Regions from separate parts of the Homo sapiens genome. Here region 1 is linked to region 2. The links come from fine-mapping of genetic effects on gene expression. A gene starts in region 2. The other region holds a variant in brackets. All regions are shown on one strand. Distances are from middle to middle. Region 1 overlaps RGS20 (regulator of G protein signaling 20). Region 2 holds the start of TCEA1 (transcription elongation factor A1).

Evidence for each region. PIP is the estimated chance that this variant, and not a neighbour inherited with it, causes the effect.
Region 1: its variant is fine-mapped to the expression of TCEA1 in whole blood (TOPMed, PIP above 0.99).

What each region holds. Positions count from the first base shown.
Region 1 is chr8:53,947,487-53,956,549 of GRCh38, reverse strand. RGS20 (regulator of G protein signaling 20) reads right to left here. Exons shown (of 5, transcript NM_003702.5): 4 at 2,240-2,474. Among named protein-coding and RNA genes, the nearest start is that of TCEA1, 70 kb to the left of the region's middle. The variant G/C (reference allele first, on the strand shown) is at 4,662.
Region 2 is chr8:54,018,597-54,027,659 of GRCh38, reverse strand. TCEA1 (transcription elongation factor A1) reads left to right here and starts at 5,212. Exons shown (of 10, transcript NM_006756.4): 1 at 5,212-5,597. The coding sequence starts at 5,535. All of the region lies in intron 12 of LYPLA1-TCEA1 (LYPLA1-TCEA1 readthrough), which reads left to right. It overlaps LOC133039971 (Uncharacterized LOC133039971), which reads right to left and starts at 5,627. Exons shown (of 3, transcript NR_189620.1): 1 at 5,278-5,627. RefSeq lists silencers at 4,159-4,466, 5,594-5,763 and enhancers at 3,888-4,679, 5,274-5,423, 4,680-5,473.

The DNA.
Region 1 (9,063 bases), 71 kb after region 2:
CTCTTCCTCTCTAGCGTCTTCAGCTGGCCTAGCTAGGCCCTCACCATGTCCCTTTGGACTCCTGAATTAGTTTTCTAACGTCTTCTGCCCCTGGTCTTCTCCAAATTCACTCTGCAGCCCTACTGGTCTTTCAAAAATCAAAATTTGATGATATAAACAGGCTAAAATCCAAGGGCTTCCCAAGATAAAAATCCAGACACTTCGCCATGATGCCCAAACCTCTCCATGCTCTCCGACTACCCCTTCTCTAAGTCTCCTCCTGCTGCCTGCCCCCAGCCCTAATAGTTTGGTAAGCACCCTCCCTTTCTGGCACAATCTGTGTATACTTGCAGTGATCACACAACTTCATGCTCTTCCCCTGGGCTCGCCTGGTCCTGTCTCCTGGGATGTCCCCATCCTGCTGTGTTTGTGGAAATTTCCTTTTCACTATCCTTGGTCCATCTGTAGCCTCCTTGAGTATTTTTCTCATTCTCGCCCACCCCTTTGTGGATGGCTCACCCCCGAGCCCCAGTGAGTGCTGAGAGTGTGGCCAGGGGTCCTGGTCTGTCCGCCCACATCTCCAGGAGCTCCATGACAGGAGAGGCCCTGCTTCTTCAACTTGACATTCCTGTCGGCACATAGTAGGAAATAACTAATAGTTTTATAATTAGAGCTACAAGGCACCCAATTTGAGAACAATCTGACCTCCTAAATTTTATTTTATTATTATTATTTTTTTGAAATGGAGTTTTGCTCTTGTTGCCCAGGCTGGAGTGCAATGACGCAATCTCTACTCACTGCAACCTCCGCCTCCCGGGTTGAAGTGATTCTCCTGCCTCAGTCTCCTGAGTAGCTGGGATTACAGATGAATGCTACCACACCTGGCTAATTTTTTGTATTTTTAGTAGAGATGGGGTTTCACCATGTTGGCCAGGCTGGTCTCGAACTCCTGACCTCAGGTGATCCACCTGCCTCGGCCTGCCAAAATGCTGCGATTACAGAAGTTGGCCACTGTGCCAGGGCTGGCCTCCTACATTTTAGATTTGAAGAAACTGAAACACTGACAGGTGGAAACTTGCCCAATCTCATTCATCTGATAATTTCTTGAATGAAAAAGCCAGCCTGGGGAAAACCTTTTCAGCATCAGTATCACATCTGTGATGCTGCTGCTCTATAACATCAAGATACCTAAATACAAGATTTTTCTCAGAATAACAAGATAATTTTATTTAAAGGAACGTCTTAGGGTATAATATTTGTAAACAGTGTTCAGTGTCAAATGGAGACTCCAGGGGATACTTTTTCCAGAAAAATGCACAAAATTTTTCACAGATTTCAGAGGACACTTGGAGCCCTCTGCAAGTCCACAGTCAAAGTGATCTGAAAACCGTGAATGTGGGTGCAGCTGTTTGGTCATGTTCAGCTTGACCCAGAACATCAACTGCAAAATGTAGAAAACAGCTGCACCCGCATTCACGGTATTCAGATCCCTTTGACTGTGGACCTGCAGAGCGGCTCCAAATGTCCTCTGAAATTGGTGAAAAATTTTGTGCATTTTTCTGGAAAAAGTTAAAAGTAATGGCGAGGCCGGGCACGGTGGCTCACGCCTGTAATCCCAGCACTTTGGGAGGCTAAGGCAGGTGGATCACGAGGTCAAGAGATCAAGACCATCCTGGCCAACATGGTGAAACCCTGTCTCTACTAAAAATACAAAAATTAGCCAGGCCTGGTGGTGCGCACCTATAATCCCAGCTACTCTGGAGGCTGAGGCAGGAGAATTGCTTGAACCCGGGAGGCAGAAGTTGCAGTGAGCCAAGATTGCACCATTGCACTCCAGCCTGGGCGACAGAGTGAGACTCCATCTCAAAAAAAAAAAAAAAAGGCAATTACTTTTGTTTAGTTTTTTGAGATGGAGTTTTGCTGTTGTCACCCAGGCTGGAGTGCAATGGCACAATCTCGGCTCACTGCATCCTCTGCCTCCTAGGTTCAAGCGATTCTCCTGCCTCAGCCTCCCAAGTAGCTGGGATTACAGGCGCCCATGACCACACCAGGCTAATTTTTGTATTTTTAGTAGAGACGGGGTTTCACCATGTTGGTCAGGCTGGTCTCCAACTCCTCACCTCAGGTGATCCGCCCGCCTCAGCCTCCCAAAGTGCTGGGATTACAGACGTGAGCCACTGTGCCCGGCCTATGGCAATTACTTTTGCACCAAGTTAATTTTACCAACAGCCTTGGGAAAAGGCATCTCGTGGTCACATACCTCCTTAGGAGAAAGTATAGAAATGTAGTCTTCATAGATTATCCTTGCTTTCTCTTCAATAATGTTTTTATTAGCTTCCTTTTTCAGTTCCTCACAGGCCATCCAGAAGAGCATATTTTCCTCACTGAATTCTGTTCGGAGGAATTCACGGAATGCATTCCTTCCTGCTGGAGTGACCATTAATTTGTCAAATGACTGAGCCCAGGCGTTGACTTCTTCCAGAGTAGGAGCAGGGCTTCGTGGAGACCAAAAGAGAGGGGGCAAAAGGGAACTGTTAGTGGTAGTTAATTGGAATTCATCATTAGGAACATATCTTTTCCTCCTCCAAGAATGAAAAATATATGCATTTAGGCCCTTTTAGGAAGGGAAAGAACTGTTCGCATTTCCTCAAACCTTTGGGAAAAACACATGAATATGATACTTTCAAATTTTTTGCTGGATTGCATACCAAAAGGCTTGCAAACCAAGTTGCTAGAATAAATGCTAAGAACATGCTTGTTTACAAATGGGCACATCTTGAAATATTTTAAAAACTGTAAATGTAAAGAAAAATCCTGCAACCATCTGACCCAAAACTTCCTAATCATCTGTGATGAGTTCTGTACTACGACAGAACTAAGTCAGATTTGACAACATTAAACCTCTGGAACAATAGAGCAAGTGTCTGTTTAATATATTTTAAAATTATATAATATTTGAGAAAGAGAATATATGTAGTATAAGTGCAAGTTATAAATGCCACCGCTGTACTGTCCAAAGGTGACAACAAAATGAACACTTTTTTTTTTTTGAGACAGAGTCTCACTTTGTTGCTGAGGCTAGAGTGCAGTGGTGTGATCACAGCTTACTGAAGCCTCGACTTACTAGGCTCATATGATTCTCTCTCCTTGGCCTCCCAAGTAGCAGACCCTGCAGGCACGTGCCACCACGCCCAGCTAACTTTTTGTATTCTTTGTAGAGTCAGGTCTTACTATGTTGCCTAGGCTGCTCTCAAACTCTTGGGCTCAAGCGATCTGCCCACCTTGGCCTCCCAGAGTGCTGGGATTACAAGTGTGAGCCACTGCGTCTGGCTCACTTTATAAAAAACTTATAAACATTTAAAAACTATAATTAGGGGGTGCAAGTGCACTTTTGTTACATGGATATATTGCACAGTGGTGAAGCCTGTGTTTTTAGTGTAGCCATCAATGGGATAGTGTACATTGTACTCATTAGGTAATTTGTCATCCCTTACCTATCTCCCACCCTCCCATCCACCTTTCCGAGTCTCTAGTGTAAATGAACACTTATGAATGCGCCATTTTCCTTAAGAACCAGAACAGCACTGATAATGTTGCATTTATTTTCGTGCTACTTCTACTTGCTACTGTCTCTTGGCTTTGTCCTCTAGGGAACTGCTATACTTGATTTTGGGCTTACCCCTTTGAGTTAATTCTTACTTCTGTCATAATTATATTGAGATCAGAAAACATAGCTTAATAATGATCCTTAATATCTCTTTTATCTTGTTTCCATAGTTTCAAATGTATGTATGTAATCCTGAAAAATGTAGTCTTTAGTTTTTATTTCTTTATTTTATTTTCTTGAGACAGAGTCTCTCTTTGTTGCCCAGGCTGGAGTACAATGGCACGATCTCGGCTCACTGCAACCTCCGCCTTCCGGGTTCAAGTGATTCTCCTGCCTCAGCCTCCCAAGTAGTTGGGATTACAGGTGCTTACCACCACACCCGGGTAATTTTTTGTATTTTTAGTAGAGATGGCGTTTCACCATGTTGGCCAGGCTGTCTGGAACTCCTGACCTCAGGTGATCCACCCACCTTGGCCTCCCGAAGTGCTGGGATTATAGGTGTGAGCCACTGTGCCCAGCCAGTTTTTTTTTTTAAGTTTATCAAAATGGTTGACTATATGTTGTCTTCTGCAACTTGCTTTTTCCACCCAACATTAAGTTTCTTTTTTCTTTTTTGAGACAGAGTATTGCTCTGTTGCCCAGGCTGGAGTGCAGTGGTGTGATCTCGGCTCACCACAACCTCTGCAATACTCTGTCTCAAAAAAAAAAAAAAAAAAAAATTAGCTGGGCATGGTGGCATGTGCCTGTAATCCCAGCTACTCGGGAGGCTGAGCCAGGAGAATCACTTGAACCCGGGAGGCAGATGTTGCAGTGAGCCGAGATTGCACCACTGCACTCCAGCCTGGGTGACAGAGTAAGACTCTGTCTCAAAAAAATAATAATGATGTAAAATAAAATAAAATAAATGTCAAACATATGAGGATTTTTAGTTCACTTTTTAATTTCTGTTTTTTTAGTCTTACTCTGTTGCCCAGGCTGGAGTGCAGTGGCGCGATCTCGGCTCACTGCAACCTCTGCCTCCCGGGTTCAAGCGATTCTCCTGCCTCAGCCTCCCGACTAGCTGGGATTACAGGTG[G/C]GTGCCACCACCCCCAGCTGATTTTTGTATTTTTAGTAGAGACGGAGTTTCACCATGTTGGCCAGGCTGGCCTCAAACTCCCTACCTCAGGTGATCCGCCTGCCTCGGCCTCCCAAAGTGCTGGGATCACAGGCGTGTGCCGCAGTGCTCGGCTTTATTTTTTAATTTCTAACTTCTATTTGAATTATATTGGTGTCAGTACAGTTTGATTAATTATGTTCCTTGAAATTTATTGAGATACTTTATAAGGTAATGCTTGGTCAGTTATCATAACTGTTCATGTTTGCTTGAGAAGGATATATATTTTCAAATGTTTAAATCCAAGTTTTTGTAAATGACCAATAAATATAGCTTATTAATTAATTTCTCCCTGTTTCTTTTTTTCTTTTTCTTTTTTTCTGATACAGGGTATCACTGTGTTGCCCAGGCTGGAGTGTAGTGGTGTGATCATGGCTCACTGCAGCCTCAACCTCCTGGGCTCAATTGACTCTCCCACCTCAGCCTCTAGAGCAGCTGGGACTGCAGGCACGCACCATCACAGCCAGCTAAATTTTTTTGTATTTTTTTGTAGAGATGAGATTTTGTCATGTTGCTCAGGCTGGTCTCAAACTCCTGGACTCAAGCTTTCCCCCATCCTTGGTCTCCCAAAGTGCTGGGACTACAGGCAGGAGCCACTGTGCCTGGCCCAAATTTCTATAATTTGTCTAAAATTTCTATCTGTTAGAAATATCAGTAACTAAGAAAGGAATGTGGCAATCTCCCTCTATCGTTAGCAGATTTGTAAATGTCTTGCTCTAGCAATTTTTGCTTTTGATGTTTGAGATTATTTTATTAGGTACATACAAGTTGTTACACTTTCCTAGTAAGCTAAATCATTTAACGTTCTAGTAGTGACTTGCTCTGTCTCTAAAGTGCTTTAAAATTTTTTAAAGTCTATTTTGTTTACTGCTAGTATGGGGAAGAAGTATAGATTAGTGGATAAAAACAGACTCTGGCCTGTAATCCCAGCACTTTGGGAGGCTGAGGTGGACAGATCACTTGAGCTCAGGAGTTTGAGACCAACCTGGGCAACATGGTGAAACCCCGTCTCTACTAAAAATACAAAAATTAGCCAAGTGTGGTGGCCCATGCCTGTAGTCCCAGGTACTCGGGAGGCTGAGGCAGGAGAATCACTTGAACACAGGAGGCAGAGGTTGCAGTGAGCCAAGATCGTGCCACCGCATGCCAGCCTGGGTGACAGAATGAGACCCTGTCTAAAAAAAAAAAAACAAAACATTAATGTCAATTCTTATCATTCTATCCTCCATTTATTTTAACTTATTTTTATATAGGTTGAACATCCAAAATTCAAAAATCTAAAATCCATATTGCTCCAAAATCTGAAACTTTTTGAGCATTGACATGACACTCAAAGGAAATGCTCATTGGAATAATTTGAAGTTTTGGACTTGGGATGTTCAACTGGTAAGTATAATGCAAATATTCCGAAATCTGAAAAAATCTGAAATCTGAGACATTTCTAGTTCCAAGCATTTTGGATAAGGGAAACTCAAACTGTATTTCAATCTCCTTGTTACGTGGGTCTTTTTGGATACCTTCAGGTTCACTAATTATTTATTTAGTTGTATCTAATCTTCTATTTCAATCATCAATTTTTTTAAAATTTGAACAATAATATTTGATTTTTAAAACTTCTATTTTATTTCTTTTCAAATCTTCCAGGTCATTTCTTAAAGAAATGTGTTAACACGCTGGGCGTAGTGGCTCACGCTTGTAATCCTAGCACTTTGGGAGAACGAGGTGGGCGAATCACCTGAGGTCAGGAGTTCGAGACCAGCCTGGCCAATATGGGGAAACCCCATCTCTACTAAAAATACAAAAATTAGCTGGGCATGGTGGTGGGCGCCTGTAATCCCAGTTACTTGGGAGGCTAAGGCATGAGAATCGCTTGAACCCAGGAGGCAGAGGTTGCAGTGAGTCAAGATTGCACCACTGTACTCCAGCCTGGGTGACAGAGCTAGACTCCATCTCAAAAAAAAAAAAGAAATGTGTTAACAGTGTTTACTCTCTTAGAGGTTAGACCACTTTCTTTACTTATATACCATTAAATTTTTGGCAAGCATCTATAGCTTTTTCTTTCTCCCTCTCCCTTTATTGATTGATTGATTGATTGAGGCAGAGTCTTGCTCTGTCTCCTAGGCTGGGGTGCAGTGGTGCAATCTTGGCTCACTGCAACCTCTGCCTCCAGTGTTCAAGCAATTCTCCCTGCCTCAACCTTCCAAACAGCTGGGATTACAGGCGTTTGCCACCACGCCCCGCTAATTTTTGTATTTTAATAGAAAAGGGGTTTCACCATGTCAGCCAGGCTGGTCTCAAACTCCTGACCTCAGGTGATCCGCATGCTTTGACCTTCCAAAGTGCTGGGATTACAGGTGTGAGCCACCGTGCCCACCCACCGTATATTATATAATATACTTTTATTTTTAAAATATAACTGTTTCATGTTTGCTTGAGAAGGATATATATTTTCAAATGTTTAAATCCAAGTTTTTGTAAATGACCAATAAATATATATACTGTATCTTATATATAGTATATATAAATATATACTGTATCTTATATATAGTATATATAAATATATACTGTATCTTATATATAGTATATATAAATATATACTGTATCTTATATAGCATATATAAATATATACTGTATCTTATATAGCATATATAAATATATACTGTATCTTATATAGCATATATAAATATATACTGTATCTTATATAGCATATATAAATATATACTGTATCTTATATAGCATATATAAATATATACTGTATCTTATATAGCATATATAAATATATACTGTATCTTATATAGCATATATAAATATATACTGTATCTTATATAGCATATGTAAATATGTACTGTATCTTATATAGCATATGTAAATATGTACTGTATCTTATATAGCATATGTAAATATGTACTGTATCTTATATAGCATATGTAAATATGTACTGTATCTTATATAGCATATGTAAATATGTACTGTATCTTATATAGCATATGTAAATATGTACTGTATCTTATATAGCATATGTAAATATGTACTGTATCTTATATAGCATATGTAAATATGTACTGTATCTTATATAGCATATGTAAATATGTACTGTATCTTATATAGCATATGTAAATATGTACTGTATCTTATATAGCATATGTAAATATGTACTGTATCTTATATATAGCATATGTAAATATGTACTGTATCATATATAGCATATGTAAATATGTACTGTATCATATATAGCATATGTAAATATGTACTGTATCATATATAGCATATGTAAATATATACTGTATCATATATAGCATATGTAAATATATACTGTATCATATATAGCATATGTAAATATATACTGTATCATATATAGCATATGTAAATATATACTGTATCTTATATATAGCATATGTAAATATATACTGTATCTTATATATAGCATATATAAATATATACTGTGTCTTATATATAGCATATATAAATATATACTGTCTTATATATAGCATATGTATATATACTGTATCATATATCGTATATATAAATATATATACTATAACTTACATATAGTATATATACTATCATATATATAGCATATATAAATATATATACTATCTTATATATAGCATATGTAAATATATATACTATATCATATATATAGCATATATAAATATATATACTATATCATATATATAGCATATATATACTACATCTTATATATAGCATATATATACTACATCTTATATATAGCATATATAAATATATATACTATATCCTACATATAGCATATATACTTATATATAGTATATATACTATCATATATATAGCATATATAAATATATATACTATCTTATATATAGCATATGTAAATATATATACTATATCTTATATATATAGCATATGTAAATATATATACTATATCATATATATAGCATATATATACTACATCTTATATATAGCATATATAAATGTATATACTATATCCTATATATAGCATATATAAATGTATATACTATATCCTATATATAGCATATATAAATGTATATACTATATCCTATATATAGCATATATAAATGTATGTACTATATCCTATATATAGCATATATAAATGTATGTACTATATCCTATATATAGCATATATAAATGTATGTACTATATCCTATATATAGCATATATAAATGTATGTACTATATCCTATATATAGCATATATAAATGTATGTACTATATCCTATATATAGCATATATAAATGTATATACTATATCCTATATAGCATATATAAATGTATATACTATATCCTATATAGCATATATAAATGTATATACTATATCCTATATAGCATA
Region 2 (9,063 bases):
CTTAAGGAATTGGAAAAAGAGAAGAAAAGTAAACTGCAAAATGTCAGAAGGAAATAATAAAGATTAATTAGAGACAAAAGAAAAGATTAGGGCAGGGAACCATGGCTCATCCCTGTAATCCCAGCACTTTGGGAGGCCAAGGTGGGAGGATCTCTTGAGCCCAAGACATTGAGGCTGTAGTGAGGTATGATTGTGCCACTGCACTCCACCTGAGTGACAGAGCAAAACCCTGTCTCAATAAAATAAAAATTAATAAAATATAATATAAATAAATAACAAAATAAAATACCAAGAATAATTTTAGCCAATGAGGTGAATTTAGCCAAGAGTTGCACACTGAAAATTATGTTATATTGCTTAAAGAAATTAAAATAGATCTAAATAAATGGAAAGATATCCCGTTGTAATGAATTGATAGACTTAATGTTGTTAAAATGGCAATGGTCAATCTTCATGACCTTGGATTTGCAACTCTTTCTGAGATTTGACACCAAAAGCACAAGTAACAAAAGCAATATATGAATTGGACTTTGGTAAAATATAAAGTTTGTGCATGAAAGGTCAATATCAAGAGACTGAAAAGAGGCTGGGCGAGGTGGCCTACATCTGGAATCCCAGCACTTTGGAAGGCCGAGGCGAGAGGATTGCTTGAGTTCAGGAGTTTGAGACCAGCCGGGGCAACATAGTAAGACCCTCTCTCTACAAATAATCCAGAAGTAGCTGGGCATGGTGGTGTGTGCCTGTAGTCCCAGCTACTCAGGAGGCAGAGGCAAGAGATTTGCTTGAACCCAAAAAGTGGAGGCTGCAATGAGCTGTGATCACGCCACAGGACTCAGCTTGGGCGACTGTGAGACCCTGTCTCAAAAAAAAAAAAAAAAAAAGACTGAAAAGATAACCCACAAAATGGGAAGGGAGACAATGATTGAAAAGCATATTTATCTCAAGGCTCTAGAGTCCAGAATTATATAAGAACGTTTACAACTTAACAACATAAACACAACTCAGTTAAAAATTGGGCAAAAGACTAGAATAGACATTTCTCTAAAGAAACCATAGAAGGCCGGGGGAGGTGGCTCATACTTGTAATCCCAGCACTTTGAGAGGCCGACGTGGGTGGATCACCTGAGGTCAGGAGTTCCAGACCAGCCTGGCCAACATGGTGAAGCCCCATCTCTGCTAAAAGTGCGAAAATTAGCCGGGGGTGTTGGTGCTCCCCAGGAATCCCAGCTACTTAGGAGGCTGAGGTGGGAGAATTGCTTGAATCCGGGAGGTGGAGGCTACAGTGAGCTGAGATTGTGCCACTGTAATCCAGCCTGGACTGTTGTCACTCTGTTAGTGAGACCCCATCTCAAAAAAAAAAAAAAAAGAAACCACAGAAATGGCCAACAAGCACATGAAAACATGCTTAACATATTAGGAAAATGCCAATCAAAGACACAATGAGATACCATTTCATACCTCATCAGATAATTAGAATTCTAAAAATGAACTAAACAGGCTGGGCACAGTGTGTCACTCCTGTAATCTCAGCACTTTGGGAGGCCAAGGTGGGCAGATCACCTGAGGTCAGGAGTTCAAGACCAGTCTGGCCAACATGGTGAAACCCAGTCTCTACTAAAAATACAAACCATTCGCTAGGCATGGTGGCAGGCACCTGTAATCCCAGCTACTCCGGAGGCTGAGGCAGGAGAATCACTTGAATCTGGGAGGTCGAGGTTCCAGTGAGCTGAGGTCACGCTATTGCACTCCAGCCTGGGCAATAAGAGCGAAACACTGTATCAAAAAAGAAATAATAAAAATAAAAATAAAGGACAACAACAATTGTTGACAAAGATACAGAGAAGTTCGAGCCCAATGACGTTTCCGATGGGTATGTAAAAATGTTGCAGTTGCTGTGGAAAACAGATGGACAGTTCCTCGAATTTAAATGTAGAATTACCATGAAACCCAACAATTCTACTCCTAGGTTCACACCCAAAAGAACTGAAAACAGGTGTTCCCACAAAACTTTGTACAGGCATGTTCATAGCTGCACTATTCACAAGAGTGAAAATGTGGAGTAGTGAAAGGTGGGTGGAAACAATGCTTATGTCCATCATGTGATGAATGAATTTTAAAAATGTTATCTATAGGAAATGCATATTATTCAGCCATAAAAAGGAATGAAGTACTGACACGGCTACAACACAGGTGAACCTTGAAAACATGCTAAGTGAAAGAAGCCAGTCAGAAAAGGTCACATATTCTAGGATTCTATTTATTAAATATATAAAATGTTCAGAATATTCAAGAGTATAGAGGCAGCCAATTAGTGGTTGCCAAGGGTTGAGGGGAGAAAGGAATCAGGAGTGACTGCTTAATTGATACTGGGTTTCTTTTTGAGGTGATGAACATTTTTGGAAAACTTTTGGGAACTATCGAGTGGTGATGGTGGCACTATATTGTTATCATTAGAAATGCCACTGAATTGTACACTTTTTTATTTTATATTTACTTATTTATTTATGTTTGAGACGGAACCTTGCTCTGTCACCCAGGCTGGAGTGCAGTGGCGCCATCTCAGCTCACTGCAACCTCTACCTCCTGGGTTTAAGCGATTCTCCTGCCTCAGCCTCCCGAGTAGCTGGGATCACAGGCGGCCACCACCAGGACCAGCTAATTTTTGTATTTTTAGTAGAGACGGGGTTTCACTATGTTGGCCAGGCTGTTCTCGAACTCCTGACTTCAGGTGATCCGCCCACCTTGGCCTCCCAAAGTGTTGGGATTACAGGTGTGAGCCACTGCGCCCAGCCAGAGATCTTTATGTTTAAACATAGGTATCTACAGCTATACATTTCCATCTGAGTGTTGCCTTTGCTGTATCCCATGCACACTGGGTATGCACACACCAGGCCTTTACACTTTAAAATAGCTAAAACAGGCCAGGTGAGGTGGCTCACACCTGCAATCCCAGCACTTTGGGAGGCCGAGGTGGGCAGATCACCTGAAGTCAGGAGTTTGAGAACACCCTGCCTAACATAGTAAAATCCCATCTCTACTAAAAATACAAAAATTACCAGGGCGTGGTGGTGGGCACCTGTAATCCTAGCTACTTGGGAGGCTGAGGCAGGAGAATTGCCTGAACCTGGGAGGCAAAGGTTGCAGTGAGCCGAGATCACGCCACTGCACTCCAGCCTGGGTGATAGGCCGAGACTCCGTCTAAAAAAAAATAAAAAATAAAATAAAATGAATTAAAATCTAAAAAAATAGTTAAAAATGGTCTTAGACAAGGTAGCATGAAAAAAGAAGAAAAGTAGTTAAATGGATAAATTTTGTGTTATGTGTATTTTAAAGAAAAACATCAACTGATTCTTTGGGAAAAAAGAAAAATGACAGAATTATTACAATAAATGTACAAATCCACATTATAAAGGGAAATTTTTACATACTCATTAATTGAGGCATGAAGCAGACAGCAAACAGGGATGTAAATATTGCAACATTTTCTGTAGAAAACAATTTTTTTCTGTGTGTTCTTTTTTAGAACACATAGATATGCATAAAAATTGACGAGATAGGCCGGGCGCAGTGGCTCACGCCTGTAATCCCAGCACTTTGGAAGGCCGAGGTGGGCGGATCACCTGAGGCCAGGAGTTCGAGATCGGCCTGGCCAACATGGTGAAACTTTGTCTCTACTAAAAACACAAAAAATTAGCCGGGTGTGCTGGTGGGCGCCTGTAGTCCCAGCTACTCAGGAGACTGAGGCAGGAAAATCGCTTGAACCTGGGAGGTGGAGGTTGCAGTGAGCCAGCCGAGATGGCACCACTGCACTCCAGCCTGGTCAATAAGAGCAAAACTCCGTGTCAAAAAAAAAAAAAAATTGACAAAATAAATCTCAACAAATACTACAATTTAAGCTGGAAATCAATAATAAAAAGATAATTTAAAAATGAAACAAAATAGGGAAACGATCCCAATACTTCTCCCCCAAATGAGTGAGTCATAACCAGGAAAAACCTGTCATCTCAGTATAGAAAGAACATTATTAGGCGGTGTATTTTGATGAATGATAGTTACGTGGTGTGGGAGTTATACCTGCAAATAGCATGAGTTGGTCGTGAAGGGTTTAAGTGGGGAAAGACTTTTTGGAGGAGCCTGCATTCTCCACTATGAACCCTGTCACAACTTAAGTCACCTTCCTCTCTGATCCTCAGAAGCTGGTGGGATGCCTTGTGTAATTTCTGACCAGAAGGTTTCCGTCAACTGTTCTTCAACTATTCAAAATGCCATGCCCAAGACTGGTTCTTAGTACTCCAGGAGCTCACGAACGATTTCACCTTTATTTATTTTTTATTTTTTTTGAGACGGAGTTTCGCTCTTGTCGCCCAGGCTAGAATGCAATGGCAGTCTCGGCTCACCGCAACTTCCGCCTCCCGGGTTCAAACGATTCTCCTGCCTCAGCCTCCCGAGTGGCTGGGATCACAGGCCATGACGCCCGGCTAATTTTGTATTTTTAGTAGTGACGATGTTTCTCCATGTTGGTCAGGCTGGTCTCGAACTCCTCACCTCAGTTGATCCGCCCGCCTCGGCCTCCCAAAGTGCTGGGATTACAGGCATGAGCCACCGCGCCCGGCCGATTTTTTTTAAAAAAAGGAACGCTTAGCCGGGTGCAGTGGCTCAGGTCTGTAATCGCAGCACTTTGGGAGGCCGAGGCGGGCGGATCACTAGGTCAAGAGATCAAAACCATCCTGGCCAACATGGTGAAACCCTGTCTCTACTAAAAATACAAAAAATTAGCAGGGCGTGGTGGCGGGCGCCTGTAGTCCCAGCTACTCGGGAAACTAAAGCAGGAGAATCGCTTGAACCCGGGGGGGGGAGCTTGCAGTGAGTGGAGATCGCGCCACTGTACTCCAGCCAGGCGACAGAACGAGGCTCCGTCTCAAAAAAAAAGGAACTCTTAAAACGAGTAACTCCGTAACCTAACTTAGAGGACACGGGTTCCATTTTTCCCCGTAGCAGTCTCCTATGGAGAAAGTGCTTGGCTTCCCACAGACTTTAAAACCTGCCAAAGTTCCATGCTCGGAATCTGCCCCCGTTTCGAGATACTTGGGCCTCCGCGAGTTCTAAAACTCCGGGATGTCCCGATGCAATAGGGGGCCGAAAACCCGCCCCGTGAGGGGGCGGGACCGGAGGTGAACGCGCAGCAAAACCGGGCGCCTTCCACGACCCTCTAGCCGGAAGCCACGCCTGCCCACTAGCCCGACGCCCGCCTGGCGGGAACATGGGCTCGCCCCTCACCAGCGATCTGCAGTCAGTTGGTAGCGCCTGCACGTCGCGCGCGGTGTTCGATTGTCGCTGCCTGGGGAGGAGGAGCCGGAGCCGCCGCCGCCGCCGCCGCCGCCGCGGGCTTCGTTCGTAAGGAAGGGGGCCTAGGCCCGGGCCTGCGGTGGTGGGGGTTGCTGCGCGCCGGGGGTCGCTCCTGCTGTGTCTTCCGCTCCAGCTTCGCCCACTTCCCCTTGCCAGCGGGGTGGGCGCGGAGAAGACCTGCCGGAGCCATGGAGGACGAAGTGGTCCGCTTTGCCAAGAAGATGGACAAGATGGTGCAGAAGAAGAACGCGGTGAGCGCGGCGAGCGGCGCGGGCCGGGAGGGAGGCCGGGCCGCGGTCCGGCCCGAGGGGGCCGCCCCCTCCCTCCTTCTCCCTCCCCTCCCCCTGCAGCCTCCCGTCTGGGAGCCGGGCCCGCCGCGCCCGCGTCCCCGGGGAGGGTGTCCGGGCCCGGGGCGTCGGGTCCCGCGGCAACCTGCGTTAGGACCCGCTCGCTCTTGTATTTCCAGTCCCTGCTCGCTGGTGCCGTGTAATAAACCTAATCGATTTAGGGATTAGGGCACGCTCTCCGTTGACTTTAAACTTTCGTGCTAGTAAAACCTTGGCAATTTAGCTTAGGAATTGAAGCGTAGAAAGTCCTCAGAACTTGAAAGAATGGAGTCTTCCGTGATCCGTGGCCAACATCTAGAAAGAGCATCAAATAGAGGCTTGTGATCGGTATTAGACATCGGGCTGGTAAAATGTAAAACTTCTGTGTCTTATTTTTGAAGAGGGCTGAACGTCCGCCTGGTTATCTCAACTGTGCTACATGTTTGCTTAGCGATTAAAAAGGTAAAGTGTGCCAGTTTCTTGGCGAGTTGCTAAACGTTTTATAAAAAGCGGGTTTTGTCCTGTCGTAATGTACAGAAGAGTTAGGACTACAGCACGCACACTCACCGGAATGCTGGTAGAGGGATTTGGACAAATTATATTGTTGGGTATTTTCTAAGTGGTTTACAGTTAATACTGGTGGCATTTTTTTTGTTATTGATGAATATTCATGTAAGCATATGCTTTTGTGGTTTGTAAGAAATCCTCATACGACCAGTTTCTACAGCTTGCCCATTTGTGTGGCACTTTCAGTCCCTTGCTTCAGACTCATCTGTTCTTAGCTAAACATATTTTTTCGAGACGGAGTTTAACTCTTGTTGCACAAGCTGGAGTGCAATGGCTTGATCTCGGCTCACTGCAACCTCCGCCTCTCGGGTTCAAGTGATTCTCCTGCCTCAGCCTCCCGAGTAGCTGGGATTACAGACGTGCGCCACCACGCCTGGCTATTTTTTTGTATTTTTAGTAGAAACGGGGTTTCACCATCTTAACCAGGCTGGTCTCGAACTCCTGACCTCAGGTGATCCGCCCACCTCAGCCTCCCAAAGTGCTGGGATTACAGGCGTGAGGCCACTGCGCCTGGCCTCTCAGGTAAACTTATATAATTGTCCTCACCTAAATTTGTTTAACCACGTTCGGCACATTTTCATCATCAGTGTACCTGAAATAATTTTTCTTCCATCTATGAAGTAAATTCCATGTCAAACTAATGTGAAGAGAAAAGGGATGCTCTGATTTGTACAGCACTTTGGAGTTAAAAAGCATCTGCTCAAAATTCTTTTGTGACTCACACAGAGCTGTGAGTACATAAAGGGTATCCATTTTACAGATTAAGACACTGAGAGAGATTAAGTACTACTACTTAAATTAAGTACTGTGTAGTTTGGAATAAGCCAGGACCCAGGTTTTCTTCTGGACAGCATGCTTTCCACATGACAGCTAGATCAGGAATTAGTGTTAACACTAAATACGTAAGACTTCAAACATCCTCTGTTCCCCTTTTTCCTTTAACAGGTGCATTGCCTCGTATTTCATTTCATACCCTGTTAATCTGTATTTGCAAATTTTGGCCTTTTAAAGTATTTCCTGTTTATTTTCTGTTCTAGATATTACCAGTGCCATTTTTCCTCCCCATTGATATGGCCCTTCATTTCCCACTTCAAATTCTGGTTATTTGATAGGTTATCTGGTTATTGGAACATTTTCGTTATTTTGTTTAAACTGGAAGATTTTTCTCTGGTCTGGAGATCCCCAGACTTGCACAGTAGAAGCTCCCAGGGAAAAAAAGCCATTTGTTGGGTAATGTTCTCTCCAACTTAGGCTGTAATATGTATCCTTTAATCATCTAATGCATTAGATGTTTGCTTGATTTTGTTTCTTTCCTTGTAATAATGTTTCTAAGTAATTTTTTAGTGGGCAGGTGTGGAGAAGATAAATTCATATTTATCTGCAGTTCTCAAATCGTCAACAAATTTTCAGATCTTTTGTAATGAGTCTGGAAGAGAATGAGAATAAACTCCACAAATAATCCTCAAATCTAAGTTTTCTTCTCAAATCTAAGTTTTCAGGTAGTTCAAAACTTTTCCAGTATGAAAACTTGCCTCCCAAAAAGAAAGGTAAAACTGACTGGCTCTTGTACTTTTGTTTTCCCCAGCATTTTCCCTGCCTGTCCTCTGGAAATTCAAACAGGCTGATGAAATACAGAGAAAGAGAAATGGTCAGAATGACACTCCTCTTTTCCCCAACTGCATCATCAGCCTACAGATGGCTTTTTAAGTGTTCAGTAATTCAACAAAATGTGTTTTAGGGGTTGTAGAATTATGGTATATGTGTTTCTCTTTTTTTCGGTAGTTTTCAGATTTTTCTCTCAGCTTTTTTAATGTTTTATATTATGAAAAAGTTAACTTTTTTTTTTTTTTTTTGAGACAGTGTCACTCTGTTACCCAGGCTAGAGTGCAGTGGTGCAATCTCGGCTCACTGCAACCTCCGCCTCCCCAGTTCAAGCGATTCTCTTGCCTCAGCCTCCCTAGAAGCTGGGACTACAGGTGTGCACCACCATGCCTGGCTAATTTTCGTATTTTTAGTAGAGATGGGATTTCAACGTATTGGCCAGGCTGGTCTTGAACTCCTGATCTCAGGTGATCTGCCCGTCCTGGCCTCCCAGAGTGCTGGGATTACAGATGTGAGCCACTGCGCCCAGCCTGAAAAAGTTAACTTTGAAGAGTAATAGTTGTCATCAGAATTGACAAATTTAAGTGCAAATTTAGATATCATTTAAAAAAATATTTTAACATGCTGCTGCTTTACCTGAATAATTTTGTTTTACTAAAACCATAGGTGTCACACTTAACTAAAAACAGCTTACCATTTATTGAGCTATTACTCTGAGCCAGGTATTCTGCTAAATACTTACCCACCTTATCCCATTTATTCCTCAGGCAACTTTGCAAGATGAGTATTATCCTCATTCTGAAAATGAGGATGCTAAGTATTTAGAATAGTCTTAAGCCAAATAGCTAGTGAATGGCCAAGTGAAGATGTGAATCTAAATCTGTTTTGCTCCAAAGCTAGTACTCCTCTCTTAAGCTACAGTGTCTCTCTAGAAGACCCTTGCATCTGCTCTTGAACCATGCATGGATACAATTAAGTGAATACAAAATCAGGAAGTAAGAGTATGAACTTGCTGTTTTGGGGCAGGTGTGTTTCCCTAGTTACCTAGATCAATATCCTGACCCTAGTTCTACCCAAGATGTTGTCCCACATGTGTACTTGATCTCAAGTGCACATGACCAAGCCACAGTGAACCACAGAAAGTAGTTCGAAATTTTTAGGTATTAGCTGTTTTCTGCTTAAGCTGTTTTCTTGTCACTTTGATTCGGTGTCAGTAACCAAG